Linked DNA regions of Homo sapiens: region 2 is linked to region 1. A link means that fine-mapping ties the variant in region 1 to the expression of a gene that starts in the linked region. Tissue or cell type: testis. Region 1 holds a variant in brackets; the other region holds the start of a gene. All regions are shown on one strand. Distances are from middle to middle.

Region 1 (8,141 bases):
AGAGGGACGTTAGTAGATGAGAAACAATCTAACATAAACTCTTATAGTTCTCTCACTACAAATATGGCATCTGCAAAGCTCCTAATTAGCAGAGATGATGCTAATGTAGGAAGAATCCATGGACAAGGTGAGACGCACAGTGATTTAGAAGAGTTTTATCCAAATATGAGAAATTTTAGAAAACCTTGATTACCTATTTTGCTTTTACTTTCTATCTCATATGATCATAGGAGTGATAAAACATAAATACACACATTTATATTCAAAAGTGTAAAAAGTAAAGTAGAGATTCCTCTTCAAAGACTTTCCTCCCCATCTCATTAGGAATACATAGTAACTTCTCTTAGAAGCAAAATTTATTCAAAGACCTGTGCTAACATTCTTAAATATCTGCTAGCCGTAATAAAGAAATGAATGTACTTTATGTTCTTAGTTCCCACAATTTAGCCTAAATATTTCCCCTGGCATGCTTATACTGGTCCAAGCAAGCATTAGGTCATAGCCTGTTCCTCTTCCTTATTTGAAGGTGTTTTTACCTTTCTCCAGATTCCAAAAGTTACTTCCTCCTTCCTTTGTTCTCCTCTGCCTTTGCCTCTTTTAAAAAGTTCTAAGTTGCTAGCCAGTTGGGACAAATATAGAATGTGAGGTCCTGTTCCAGCCAATGGAAACCGGACACAGCAGTAGGGTGGAAGCATCAGGTTATAAATGACCCTGTCTCCTTTGTTCGGTGTACTCTCATTGCAAAACTGCTGGCAAGTGTACCCTTTCTGCAGAAAATATAAAAATGGCCTTGCTGAGGAAATGATATTCAAGTGGTATTTCTTTATGGCACCAAGGAACAGGCATTTCAAACAAAAAGTGTTATTTGCAACATATATGAGATAAAATTTTTGTGATGTCATAGTTTTTCAATAGTTTTATGCTTTTATTGTGATGTAAAATAATGATGTATTTTACAGTTGATACATACGATACTTCTTGCAATTACTTGGAAAAAGCTGTCACTAGTAGCAAATATTGACTTAGTGTTTAGTGCAGAACTATGTAAAACAAAAATGACTGACACAGATCTCATTCAATTCAGAGAATTATTTTGCCATGTTTAAGGATAAAGAAACACAAGTCACAGTAGGCTCTGTGGCCTGTGCTTTTTCCAAAGAAGGTTTTGCTGACTTCCATATTTATAGAGGTGAGACCAGGGAGGAGTGGATGGAGGATAAAGAAATGGGGGAAAGACAGCGAGGCAAGTGTTACATCCAAATTAGCACTCACTGCATCCAGAGGTTGCATGTGTAAAGAGGAATGGGGTAAAAGTTAATTGTGCATTTGTCTTGTGCGTGGTAGATCTACATTTTACATAAGATAGGCAAACTTGTGAAATTACAGCTGACTCTTTGGGAACAAAAGGAAGGTAGTATTAGCATGACTCAGTTTCCAACTTTTCCTTTGGCACAGTGAGTTTGGGGTCCCAAAATTTTATTTTCCTTGTTCTTCAAAATATTTCAGAGAAAGCATTTTAGAAGAAAATGAGTGTTTGGTTATATTTTTTCCCTAATCTTTCAACATTAGGATGGTTTATTCCTAGAAAGTTAGGATCTACATTTTTAAGGAGACTCATTCTAGAAGGTTGTGAAGAAATAGGGGGAATAAAAAATAAAGGGAAAAGATAAGAAAAAAGAGACACAGCTGGATTATAGCAACAAAGTAGAAAGCAATCCTTGAAAACTGATAGACTATATTACAGAGCAGTCCATATATAACTAGATAGTCCTGAAATCTTTTATGTAAATAAATAAGATGCTGTTGTTTCTCCCAAAGTTTAAGTTTTCTAGTTTCAGTGTGCAGGGCTTTACACAAAGCACAGTTTTAATTTCTACTAATTCCAAGTCAGAAAAAAATGGGAAAAAAAAATAAAACATTGAAAATGTTAGTTTGGAGACTTGTAACCGGCAAAGAATTTAGGATCCAGTCTAGCTAAATTGTAGGCAAATAATAAAACTGGAAAGCAATGAACAGGGCTAGAATCCAATAAAGGATGTACTATAGTTTCATTTGAAATACATTTTTCTTTCTATAGTCTTCCATTTTTACTAAAGAAAAATCATAGTAAGACCAACTTATTTCCAAAGTAAGTTTTCGTTTTATTGTACTTGGCCTGATTATTTTCACAAAGTGCAGCAAGGATATTTTTTTTTCCATATAGGCTCTTTTAATTTGGCATTGATGGAACTTTTTTTTTAAACAAAGTGTCTAAGATTTGACTTTTCAAAAAGCCCCTCAAGCTCAAACAAGGATTTATTGTGCCTGCAAATAACTTATGAACTGGGTGAATTCCTCTCATCTTGAGGTCGCAAGATTACTTGGAGTTCCTAGGCCTGTCAGAAGGTAACATGCTTTTCTTACCACAGGTTAGAAAATCTGTAGAGAAGGTACAAGGCCAGTCTCTCCAAGGGAATTTTATTGGCTCTATTATTCAACCTAAATTTGTCAAAGCAATCTGCTCATAGATGAAAATATGCTATTCCAGCCAAAGCCTTGGCAAGGTAACTACTGTCTCCAATTGTATCATGATACAAAAAAAAATATCATATCGATCATATGCAAATAACTTATAATACCATAAATTAAGAATATTCAGAAATAATTCTAATATGTCTTAGTATATGTTATCAGTAATAATTATGATTATTACGCTGAATTGTTATGTGTCACAGAAATGACCAGATTTCTTTGTTGACTGTGTCTTTAACAATGGCCTCATTGGACACAGTGACTCATGCCTGTAATGTCCTCACTGGGCACAGTGGCTCATACCTGTAATCCCAGAACTTTAGGAGGCTAAGTTGGGAGGATTGCTTGAGCTCAGGTGTTTGAGATCAGCCTGAGCAAGATAGTGAGAACTTTTCTCTACAAAAAAGTCAAAAAATTAGTTGGATGTGGTAGCACTTGCCTGTGGTCCCAGCTCCTCTGGAGGCTGAAGAAAGAGGATTGCTTGATTCCAGGAAGGTGAGACTACAGTGAGCCATAATTGTGCCACTGCACTCCAGCCTGCGTGGCTTCAGACCCTGTCTCAACAAAATCAAAGTAAAATTAATAAAACAATGGCTGTCCTGAGATTACTGTCACCCACAGATTATTGTGCTCTTTTTTTTTTAAACTATTCAAAATGTGTTTGCTCTTTGAAATGTTCTCTTGAATACAGGTTTCTGATAACTAAAGATTGTGGCATTGAAATAGGAAAAAAACAAAACCAAACAAACAAACTTCCAGGACTGTCAGAGATAGCTGGTATGTTTATGAGGACTGCAGGCCTAATGTCAGACAAAGTTAACTGCATGGACTGAACTAATAGAAGAAATAGAACACCACAATAATCCTTTTATGACTTGTTGCTTGAAATGTTGCTGATCTTTTTTGTTGTTTTTCAGAGTCAAGACAACATTTTTTCTTCTCAGCTATTTACAGCTTTTCATGATTGAGTAAAGTATATTCCTGTGAACAAAAGATGAAGGATATTTCATTTTCTCTACTTGATTTCTCCAGAATTTGAAAACTATTTATTTATGAGTATTCTATACTATGGAGATATAGTTATTGACATAAGTAAAATAAGAATCTGATTTCTTTTGTAAGAGAACACAATTGGAGACACTGATTATTTTACCAAAGATGTGATGATGTTACCAGTGGAATGGCCTACTTTCAGATACAAACAGACAGGCTTGAGGAATTAAAGTTGACTAACAGACATGATAAAAGCCCCTTAAGAAACTGACCTCATAACTGTCTACACAGGCCTTGTACAGGGTTCCTGACCTGTGGTTAGTAAAAAATGTCACATTCTGACAGGCCTATGATTCCTAAATTATCTTGGGAGCTGAAGAAGAGAGAATTTCAAGCAATCTGTACAAGTATTTGCAGGCACAGATACATCCCTTGAAGGCTTTAAAAAAGTCCAATCCGAGATTCCTTAGGGAACAAAGTTCCAGCAAACCCAATTTAGAAAGAGCTAATATGGCAAATAATTATTCTTGCTGAACTTTACGCAAATAATCAGGCTAAGTATAATAATACCAAAACTTATTTTGCAAATAAATGTGTCCTACTATGATATGTCTTTAAAAAATGAGAACTAGAGAGCGAAACATTGTATTTCAGAAAAATACTATAGCACACCTGTTGTTACATTCTAGTCTTGTCTATTGTTTTTAAGCTTTTTATTGTTTTCTGCATTTTGTACTGAATCCTGAAATCTCTCAGAGCTAAAGTGCTCAAACTAACACATTCACATTTTTCTTCC[C/A]CTTTTCTGACCTGGACTCAATGAAATGGCTACGAACTTCTTCCCAAGGCCCTGCAGGCTGAAGCTTATCCCTTGAGATACAGATGCGAAATATGTGAGATTGTCATCACTATCCTCCTTTGCAACTTAAAAATGCTTTGAATCTAACATCTGGATGCATTGTGCCCAATATAAATCTTTGTTATTATTTTCTATTTCCATACAAATGCCTGTTATTAAAAATGTTTTTTGCCTTAATCACATAAGGGGGCCTAGTTCATTTGCAGTGACGCCTCCTGGAATGAAACACTGCTGGGATCTATTCTGAGGACTAGGAAACTAACTAAAAAGATATGAGATGGTATATTTAAATTTGCTCTTTCCTGTTTATCCAAATTTGTCTTTCTAACAACCTCTGACCCATATCTCTCTTGACTATTGACCCCATGTCTGACTGGTTCTTGGCGCTATTCACCCAAATCGCTCAGGGATTTAGATGAATTATATAAGGACTTCTGAAGCTAGGACTTCCACTCCTTATATTAGGACTCATTATCCTATAGTCAGCTGTTCACTTAAGTGCTGTACTAAAACTGTGGATGAGAGCACTAACATCTTGGTCATGCAAGCCTAGGAACCCCAACCAGGCACCTGTGAATACATGCAGGCAGCTGCAAAGCAGTTTCATTCCATTTACTCTGGGCCAAACCCTATCCCAAGTATACCCCTTGTCAGCAGGAAGAAGTTAGAATGGTCTTTGGCCTTTTCCCAACTCTGTACCTCACCCATTAAGAATAAGATGCAATGAAACTTGCAAAGGGAAATTGGAATCACGTTTGCAAAAACAGTAACAGTAAGAAAATTATGATAGGGAGAGAGATATGACCTAAGTGACTTCATCTTGCATTTAACCTCCAAGAGGCCTTTGCTGATTCCTGGGCAAAAACAAACTAACTTCGGGAGAAATTTACTTTGTAGCTTAACTTTGAAACAAAGATAATGACAGCTCCTCCCTGAAACAAAACCCCTCATTGTTTGGGGACCACATCAACTTTGTAAAACTAACAAATTAACCACAATATTAGAAAGTATGGCTCAGGAGTCATACAATCAGAGGCCACAATATTAATAACCTCCCCGATTGCTCCTATAAATAGCATTACTATTGTAAAACCTAAGATTGGTGTTTGAGGTATTTTTCATAACTTGCATTCTGACAGATCAGTGGGTGCCACCTAAACCCATAAACTGGCTCATCTGGATACGTGGCCCACACTCAGGAGCTGAAGTCAGTAAAGAAGATGGCTTTGACTTCCTAAGATTTCATCCCTGACCCAACCAATCAGCATGTCCCTTTCTCTAACCCCTGCCCACAAAACTATCTATAAAAACTCTAGCCTCTGAATATTTGGGGAAGCAGTTTTGAGTAATACGAAAACTGCTCTCTCCTTTAGCTGGCTCTACATGTATAAAATCTTCTCTACAGCAATTCCCCTATCTTGATAAAGTGACTCTATCTGGGCAGCAGCCAACATGAACCCATTGACCATTAACAACCCAACTGCTGAATTTTGTATGAAGATAACTTGTTTTGATTTCATGGGCTGACAGAGGAGACTTTAGATTTGGGAACTTCCTGCTGGTGCTAGAACAATTTAAGCCTTTGAACGATAGGAATTAAATAAACTTTTTGTAAGTGACAGGGCTTTATTTTTAGAGTCAGAAGTGGAGTCCTGTGGTTGGAATATTGCTTCCCTCCAAAATTTATGCTGAAATTTCATCCCTAACATGGCAGTACTGAATTGTGAGACCTTTAAAATGTGACTGGATCATGAAGAGTTTGACCCCATAAATGAATTAATCCTTTCATGGATTAATAAATTAATATTTAAAGATTAATAGTCTACTATGAGAGAAGAGTGGCTTATAAGAAGGGAGACATGATCTTGCATGTCAGCAAGCTCTACTCCATTGCCATACGCTACCCTGTAGGCTTCAGAACTCTTCAGAGAGTTCCAACCAGGAACAGGATCTCGCCACATACAACGTCTCAACCTTGGACTTTTCAGCCTCCATAACTGTATGAAACACATGTGTTTTCTTTATCAACTACCCAGTTTCAGGTATTCTGTTATAAGTAACAGAAAATGGACTAAAACAAAGTCTTAGTATTACTATGCCCTGTTATTAAGTTCAATGGAATATTACAACCATTCCAGACAAGAATACAAATGATCCAGATCTTTCAGGAATGAAGGTTTGCATCACCCTGCCAGGTAAAGACCCAGGACCAGCAGAGGGGCTTGCTGAAGACAAAGAGAATACTGAATGGGTAGCAGTAGAAGGGAGTTACAAATAGCAGACAGGACCAGGTGACCAGTTAAAGAAACAAGGATTAAAATTGTCACTAGTATTTCCTATCTACTTTAAGAATACATTTGCATGTTATATATACATTTATTAGCCAAATAACATTGTTTTTATTTCTCTCTTCTTTTATCACATAACACAAGAATGCATTAACTTGATATTAGCAGTTAAGTGTTAGTAATTTAATATATTTGTATTGAAGTTATGGGGTATCAGAAGAGTAAACATCACCCACAAACTTCTACTACTCTTAAGAAAAATAGTATAGTGTGTTCTGGTTGCACACAGGATCGTTGCATAATGTTAGGTAGAACTATTGCCTTGTTATTGTCTGTATTTGAAGATTAGTTATGGCTTAAGGTGACACATATAGGTGCCAACTAGAAAGGTGCTGGATTTGTCATGGTTAATTTAAGACGCTGACTGGATTACAGAATACCTACAGAATTGGTGAAGCATTACTTCTAGGTGTGTCTGCCAGGGTGTTTCCAGAGGAGATTGGTGTATGACTCAGGGAATTTAGTGGAAAAAAATCCACCCTCAATGGGGGAAGGCAGCATACAATCTCCTTGGGGACCAAATAGAACCAAAAATGAAAAATTTTTAAAAAGTCTTCCTGTCTCTCTCTCCTGAAGAAGGTATACTCCTTTTCCTGCCCTTGGAAAACAGAATTCCATGATCTATGGCCTTGAAACTCCAGAAGTTACACCAGTAAATGCCCTGGATTCTCAGGCCATTGGTCCCAAACTGAGAATTACACCAAGGGCTTCCCTGATTCTGAAGATTTCAGCTTTGGACTGAGCCACCAACGCTACAGCATCCAAGGTCCTTAAACTCACAGATGGCTGTCTCGGGAATGCTCCGTCTCTACAATGTTACATGAGTAAATCCCCAAACAAAATGCCGCTCATTGAACTATTATCTATCTATCAACTCTCCATCTATATATGTATCTATCTACCTACCTATCTACCTCCCTGTCTCTCTGGAAAAAAAAAACAACTGACAAATACACCCATAAAGACTTCAGCCAAATGGTGCAATACTATGTCTGTCTCTAGTTGCTCCTCCACCACCCCTGCTGCTTATGAGTGTATGTCCTGGAGAGCTCTTCTCTTTCCATCTGCACTTCAAGGAATGCTGCCCTCTTCTTACTGGGATTGGTTAGTAATACATGACTCATGCCATTATACACATTTTGTTGAGTTGCCTCCTCTGTATTTCACTTTACGAACACACATGGACATCACTTTTCTCCCACTTAGCACTCTCCTAGAGAGTGGTTACCTTGGTAGAAATAAACTAGACACAGGTCAGACAGGAGCCACAGGGTGTCTTACAGTATAAAGAAGTACTCTGTGAGAGGGATACCTGGATGTAAGCTGGACGGTTGGGCTTTAGGCCATCGACCAGGATAAGTAAGCATCCCATGAAAGGCACAGCCAGTACCAAACCCTGAGTCGTATTGGGCAAGGTTATAGGTTATAGTCAC
Region 2 (8,141 bases), 20 kb before region 1:
AAGAATAAATGCACATAAATGTTTGTATGTATACATATACACACACAATGATATATATTTAACCATATCTAATCAAATATATTCAAACTAATGTTTTTAACAAGCTGTTATTTGTTAGATTAATTAAGCATAAAATTATTACCTAGACTAGTCACTAAAAAGGTAAAAAAATAGAGATATGCTAAGAAATGAGATGAACTGATATAAAGTGCTCAAAACAACAAAAGGTAGAAAATGAGTGAAATACAAAAATAAGAACAAAGACAAATCAACAACTGAAAAATGGTAACAAATTTGGTAGATTTTTAATCCAACTATATCAATAATCACTTTAAATGTCAATGTTCTAAATGCACTACTTAAAGGACAGAATGCATCAATAAAAGGAAGCATGGGATAGAAAGAATAAATTCATGTAACACGTTACAATCTGAGAAACAAGAGAACATCATGAGGTTTGCAGGAGAATATCAAAGAACATTTAAGAAGTCACACAGACAGGCCGGGCATGGTGGCCAACACCTGTAATCCCGGCACCATGGGAGGCCGAGGAGGGCGGATCGCTTGAGGTTAGGAGTTCGAGACGAACCTGGCCAACTTGGGGAAACCCCATCTCTACTAAAAATACAAAAATTAGCTGGGCATGGTGGCACCTGCCTGTAATCCTGGCTACTCAGGAGGCTGAGGCAGGAAAATCGCTTGAACTCAGGAGGCAAAGGTTTCAGTGAGCTGAGATGGAGTCACTGCACTCCAGCCTGGGCTACGAGAGCAAACCTCCATCCCCAAAATAAAATAAAATAATAAAATAAAATAAAGACTAAAACTACCAGACAGCTTACAGGTAGGGGATTTTAAAGACACAGAGGGGAGGGGTAATACACAGTCATAAATTAATATATTGAGGTTACACATTGGTTTTAGACTAAAAGGATGAAGTATCTTGAAGTGGAAGCTTACAGGTCATAGGGGGATTCAGAGATTTTCTGATGTGTGATTATTTAAGAAAGTAAAATTTGTCAGAAAATTTGGGATCAGCAGAAAGTAATGGTACTTTTGGCTCATAGACGTAACATTCCATAGGCCACTCAGGAAGAAATTGAGAATAAAGAATGGCAGAGTTCATTTCATAGATCCCCTTTATCTGAGGTCTATGTGCCAGTGGATCCATTTAGTAGAGGGGCAGCTTTCTGAACAACAACTCAGGGACATATGCTAAGCTTTGATTTTTAGTTTCCATAGGGAACCCCATATTCCCATGACTCTCCATTCCTTGCTACTGTTTTACCTTCTTGCTTGTCCAGTGGCTCGTGTACTTCTCAGAGGTAGAGAGGTGCCTGGAATTTCTGTGAAGGGACTCAAGATTTTCCTTTATTTCCATGCTTGGGGTGGTACACAGGCCCCTATGAGGGGTCCCTGCACCTTCTCAGGCCCTAAATGAATCCTCATCTGCTTGTGGGACTCCTGAATTTCATCTACCATGTTCTTGCTTTTGTACTGCTTGCCGCTTTCAGGTAGGAAAACTCCTGTTCAACCTTGGCAGACAAATCTCATCTTCACTGGCCAAGACATTTGGATGACTATTCGTATATGAATTATGTCAAGAGTGCCAAAGTTCAGTATAAAATAATGCACATCAGTTGATCCACTATTATTTAATAGAAAGGTGGGTAAATTATTGACTATGTCAATGAAAATGGAGATATAAATAGTTGCCAGCAGAAAAGTATTTTTAAAATGTTAAGCTAAATGAGAAAAAATAATAAAATATTTTAACACCTTTCCTAAAAGTGATTGTTACAGATATATTTGCTGAATAGAGCAAAATTATGTGTACATTTTCTAAGTGGCATTTTAAAAATTTGTCACTGAGACTATTTATTACTGCCTCAATTTCAGAGCCATTCTTGGTCTGTTCAGGGATTCAGTTCCTCTCTGGTTCAGTCTTGGGAGGGTGTATTTGTGCAGGAATTCTTCATTCTTTCTAGATTTTCTAATTTATGTCCATGGAGGTGTTCATAATATTCTCTGATGGTTGTTTATATTTCTGTGGGGTCAGTGGTAATATCACCCTTGTTGTTTCTGATTGCATTTATTTGAATCTTCTCAACATCGCTCATTATTAGAGTAACGCAAATCAAAACCAAAATGAAATACCATCTAACACCAGTCAGAACGTATATATTAAAAAGTCAAAAAATAACAAATAACAAATAATCAAACAAATAACAGAGGCTGGCAAGATTGTGGAGAAAAAGGAACACTTATACAATGTTGGTGGGAGTGTAAATTAGGTTAACCATTGTGGAAGACAGTGTGATGATTCCTAAAAGACCTAATGACAGAACTTCCATTTGACCCAACAATCCCATTTCTAAGTATATATCCAAAGGAATATAAATCATTCTGTTATAAAGACACATGAACACATATGTCCACTGCAGCAATATACACAATAGCAAAAACATGGAATCAATCTAAATTGTCCATCAACGATAGACTGTATAAAGAAAATGTGGCACATATACACCATGGAATACAATGCAGCTATAAGGAACAACCAGATGATGTCCTTTGCAGGGACGTGAATGGAGCTGCAGTCCATTATTCTTAGCAAGCTAACACAGGAATAGAAAACCAAATATCTCCATGTTCTCTTATAAGTGGGAGCTAAATGATAAGAACACATGGACACATAGAGGGGAAGAACACACTCAGAGTTCCTGAAACCATTGGTCTGGTTTCCAATGAGTGGGGCAATCAGACACACAAGCACACCAAGGCTTAACCGCTCTGCTCACTGGAAGGGAAAGAAACTACCCAGGAATGCCACCTGCTTCCAACTAGCTGATCCCATGATTGAGGCTCTAGGGAATTTCTCTTTACCTGCTGAGATATTTCTGTCTTGGGGAACCTCCTTTCTCTTCTTGCCACTGCACCAGCTGCCAACTACACTTCCTTACCACAGGGCAAGTGACATCTGAAGAGGCTGACAGACTTCAGAGCTGGGTAAGGCAACCAGAATACCCCCTGAACTGCCTCTGCCTGTTCTGTGATGTCACCTGACCTCTGCTCTGTTTACATATAGCTGCTTGTGACATCATCTGGGCATGTATGGTATCTGTATCTACGTCAAGACCTGGGCTTTGCTCCACTTGGAGTCAGCTGATTGACAGGAGGGCATCTGAAATTGAGAGGAGATTTCAGGACGTTTACCCAGCCCTTTAGTGGGGATCTGTCCGGGACTGTGCAGTCTGAACCTGCAACTGTAAAAGGTACAATATCTACATTTAGGCCCTCATCTCTGTCTCTCTCTCCTCCTCCTCCTTTCCTCTGCAGGGTGATCTGCATAAGCCCCACTCCATCCAGGATCCGGCCCTGGAGGGAAACAGCCTCCACTGCCCTAGCAGGGTCACTCTTTTTAGGGCCCTGGAGTACTTCTCACAGCTGTGCCAGTTTTTATGGGGAAAGGAAGGATGTGAACAATTCCATAGGTTATCTAAAGGGCTTGCCACCATGCTTATGGTGCTTAATGTTGTTTATGTGAAAAAAAGCTTAACAGCATATGGGATAAGTATTTAGGCAGTCCTGACTCCAACCCCTCTGCCCTTTTTATCTGCCTAATTTACCATTTAATTTGTTGCCATTCGGTTACCATCTACTAGGGTACTAAGGACAGCAGAACATGGACTTGGGATGAAGTTGATGTGCTGGTGGGCCGGGGCAGGGGGTGGAGCGGGGGCAGGGTGGTGGTGGGGGAGTGCTGTGCTAGCTGGTGCTAATCACTAGCCTGCCCAACTAGTTTATTCTCTGGTCTCTTTGGCTGTCCCAGCTGTGTGGTGAGATTTCCACAAGTCTTCCTTTTAGGACCATGAGTGGTATTAATTGCACTGCTTATATGAAGCTAGAAACGTCTTTCCAACCCATAGAGGTCTGGTTGAAGGATATGAGCAGTGCAGAACAGAAGAGAGACAACAAATAAAAGTTGTCATCACTGTTTCACAGGGATGAGCAGTATGGACATAGAAACCACGTCAGGAGGGGAAACAAGGTCTCTATCACCTCTGGGAGGCCCCTGGGGCATACCCTAGCTAACTGTAGAGCCTATAGCTATCAGCCCATGACTAACAGAAAAATGGTCTATTATTGCAGTGCTGTTTGGACTGTGGACAAGTTAGGTTATAAATTTTGACCTCTGAATGGACGCAACCAATATTAGCCTTTAATGCAGTTAGACTCATTTTGTCAGAGGTCTGGAAAATTAGGAAAAACTACCATATGTCCAAGCCTTCATGCTTTTCGAAAATCAGGATTCATACCATGAGGGAAGATGCCAGCTGCTAGCTATACCAAAGGACAGAATGGAAAAAAGGCTCTTCACAAGCCAGAGAGCCAAACTCAGGCAGAAAGCAATGAAGAAGAATTAGGACTTTTAAATGTCCTACACCCAAGCTGTTTTAGCAGCTCCAACCACCACAGCCAGAACGCACCTGGCCTCTGCTCCACCTCAACAGCTCCCACTGCAGTACCACCATACGGGGCCCTTAGCACTGGCCTCTGCGTTGGACCGGATTGCCTTGATGCTACCAAGTGAGGCATCAGACCAATAAGAGGGAGCTACTCTGCCGCCTCAGTATAATGAGAGAACAGAGACGGCCTCTCCCTCCAGTGCTTGACAGGGAACATGATTTAGCAAGGAATTGCCATGGCCGGAGCAAAGGAATTACCGTTTACAGGGATGGCCATGGGTGGCTTGGATGAGAGTGGGCAACCTGTCAGACATTACTGGACATCCAGCCCATTTTCAACATCTAACTTGTGAAATGGAAAAACTCCACCCCACTTTATACAATGGATCCCCAGAAAATGACTGATCTCTATGTGTCTATCTGTGCTACCCACCAGCGTACCTGAGCAGATGTGTAGTCTCTCCTAAATATGTTTCTGACTGCAGACCAAAGAAGGTCCAGAGTCTTGGTGCCTCCATGAAACAAATCCAAATACCCCAAACCTGAAGGGACCATTCTGGATGCAAACCCTAATTGGGGCTCCAATTGATAAGGGGACATGGCCCATCTGGAATATTCACAAACATTCTTCCTGTTTGGACTCAGGAAAGGGGTACCAAAACAGGAAGCCTCACTAGGAATGACCCCTTCCCCGCTCCAGAGACAAAGAAACAGAAGTTTCAACCATAAACGTGGAATGAACAAGGAAGCCTCTGCATCAGAAAAATCGAGGCAAGCCTCTGGAACACAGCCAGTGTGCCTAGTGTAAGGAGAAAGGCCACTGAAAGGATGACTGTCCCAAAAGAAAGGACCAAGGGGCCAGAAAAAGGAGGAATATGATGAGGAAAAAGCTCAAAGTCAAATCATGGAGCAGGGTCACTGCTCTGACCACAGAGAGTGATGCCTGGGGACTCTCCTTAATCACTCAGAGACAATTAAAATTTCCCCACAGGAACCCTGGGTACAACTGACAGTGAGGAAAAAGTTAATTGATTTCCTGGTTGATACTGGGCAAACTATTCAGTTTTAACACTTTATGAGCAAAAAGCACCAAAATGATTGTACCTGTGATAGGAGTTGCAAGAATAATGCAACAAAAGGCTTTCCTACAACCTTTAGAATGCAAACTAGAAAGTTTGGACCTAAGGCACTGCTATTTCTATATGTAAGAATGCCCAATTCCCTTGCTGGGAAAAGACCCATTATGCAAATTAAATACTCAAGTAATTTATCCCCAGAGAAACAACTATGGCTGCAGGTCCTGCTAAAGCAAGCACTGCAACTAAGATGTTACTCACTTGCCTTAAGAAGAAACAAGAATTCTCCCTCAGAAGTCTATGAGAGAGTGCGTAATTGTGAATAGGCAGAAGGAATCCCAGGAAAAACAAGAAATATACAGTGAGTGCATATAGAAAAAATAGAAGGGGCTACTGTGACCTGGGCGGCGGGGAGGAGGCGAATAAAAAAATCAGTATACATTAAGAAAGGAAGCCTTAGAAGGAATACAGCCTGTCTTTCAAAAATTTGAGAAGTGGACTGATTCATCCTTGCAGATCCCCATATAATAGCCCTATCGTGCCTGTAAGGAAGCTACACTTCTACAAATATCAATTTGCCCAAGACCTGAGAACCGTTAATAAAATAGTCTTGGATATTCACCCAGTGGTGCCTAACCCAGATACTCTACTGACTGCTATATATAGACATTATGAATGCTTTTCAGTGCTAGATCTGAAAGATGTTTTCTTCTGCATTCCAATTGAAGAAAAGACCCAACAATTATCATTATTATTTTTAATGACAGGACCGAGAGACTAAAACAACCTTTCAATACTGTTAGACAGTGGGGTCTCAATGTGTTAAAAAATGCACCAACAATTTTTGGGGAAATACTGGCAAAAGACTTAGGAGACCTACAACAAGATTAAGAAGCCTGGCTACAACACATAGATAATTAATAGCCAGCCACAACTATAGGAAATGCTTAGCTGATGTCATTTTAGTTCTAAATCACCTGGTACAATATGGATACAAAGTATTCCCAAGAAGCCCCAAATATGTAAGTAGAAAGTAACCTGTCTTGGCTTTAGGTTAAAGCAAGGCCAAAGGAGCCTGGTCTGGTAAAAAAAAAAAACAAAAAACAGGCAATAGCAGCCATAAAGCTCCAGAGAATGGGGGCAACCATGGGGATTCTTAGAAAGGGTTAGCTTCTGCCAGATTTGATTCCTAAGTTTGGACTAATGACTAAAACACTTTATGAATCCTTAAAGGATTCACTAGACTCAGAGGCCCTTCTCTGGACATCTAAAGGTCAACAAACATTTTATACCATCAAAGAAAAGCTGATATCACCCCCTGCACTGGGATACCAAATTCCCAAAAGCTGTTCAAACTCTATATCCAAGAGAAACAAAGCATAGGTGTGGGTTGTGCTAATGCAAATGCTGGGAGATGCCCCACAATCCATGGCCTATTTCTCTAAACAATTACACCAAAGATTAAGGGATGGCTCCCCTTCCTCTGGGCAAGAGCACCCACTGTGAAGTCCTACAGGAAGTAGAACAATTTACTCTGGGACAGCCAGTTACCTTGTTTGTACCCCATCAGGTGCTGACTCTGCTAGAACAAACGGGAGGCTACTGGCTCACTGTGGGGTGAGTGGGCAGATACCAGGCCATCCTCTTATATGATCCAAATATCACCCTACAAACCACCATGGCTCTAAACCCTGCCACACTGCTCTCAGCCACTGAACACAATCCTGGGTTAAAGCATGACTGTAAATCCTTGATGCAGCTTATTCAAGCATGCTGAACCTGTCAAACTAGACAATGAGTGCTCTGGACTTGAACTACACTGATGGGAGCAGCTTAATGAAAGATGTGCACAGAGCCGGATGTGCCACTGTGACTACCAAAAGGGTAATAGTAGTCCATACCCTTCCTGCAGCTACCTCCGCACAAAGAGCTGAGTTAATTGCTCTTACCTGAGTCTTTAGAACTGTCCCAGGAAATGGGAGTAAAGATTTATTCTGATTCCATATATGCATTCCTGGAAATGCACGCCAATTGGGTGATCTGGAAACATAGAGGAGGTTGCTTGAAATCAGAAAATACAGACATTAAACACCCAAGAGAAATTCTGGACCTAGTAAAGGCAATTGCCTTGCCTGCCCAGGCTTCCATCATGCACTTCCCCAACACCAGAGACATAATTCACAACCGAAGGTAACCAGGCAGCTGGCAAAGCTGCAAAATGAGCTGCTTGGGAGGCACAGGTCCTGGGACATGAATACTCCATTTGGAATTACTAGATTTTAAACCTCATTACACTGAACAAGATCCCAAACGTGCCCAAGCCAGGGGTTTGAGAAAAGAGATTCCAATTCCCCTAGAAAACTGACACCTATAAGATAACGCCTACAGGATGATGAAACCCCAAGGCCTTGGTTTATCCAATCTCAAAACATCTACATAAAGGAATGCACTATGGGAGTGATGTCCTCGCCAACCTAGTACAACCACACCTCAGTAGACCACACTTTCAAAACATCACTCGGAAAATTACACAGGGATGCATCTTGTGCACTACAAACAAACAATCCCAAGATGGAATGTAGTCCTCCTAAAAAGGAGA

Direction of the effects. Positions count from the first base shown, and alleles are read on the strand shown. Sizes are in standard deviations (SD) of each study's normalised expression.
In carriers of allele C in region 1, the expression in testis of the gene that starts at base 3,097 in region 2 tends to be higher than with A alone (small effect, 0.18 SD a copy in GTEx).

Evidence for each region. PIP is the estimated chance that this variant, and not a neighbour inherited with it, causes the effect.
Region 2: it holds the start of PWRN2, and the variant in region 1 is fine-mapped to the expression of PWRN2 in testis (GTEx, PIP 0.94).

The regions. Positions count from the first base shown.
Region 1 is chr15:24,145,379-24,153,519 of GRCh38, reverse strand. All of the region lies in intron 2 of LOC105370732 (a long non-coding RNA gene), which reads left to right. It also overlaps a transcript of LOC105370733 not described here. Among named protein-coding and RNA genes, the nearest start is that of PWRN2, 20 kb to the left of the region's middle. The variant C/A (reference allele first, on the strand shown) is at 4,301.
Region 2 is chr15:24,164,904-24,173,044 of GRCh38, reverse strand. It overlaps PWRN2 (Prader-Willi region non-protein coding RNA 2), which reads left to right and starts at 3,097. Exons shown (of 2, transcript NR_152824.1): 1 at 3,097-3,272; 2 at 4,150-8,141. All of the region lies in intron 2 of LOC105370732 (a long non-coding RNA gene), which reads left to right. It also overlaps a transcript of LOC105370733 not described here.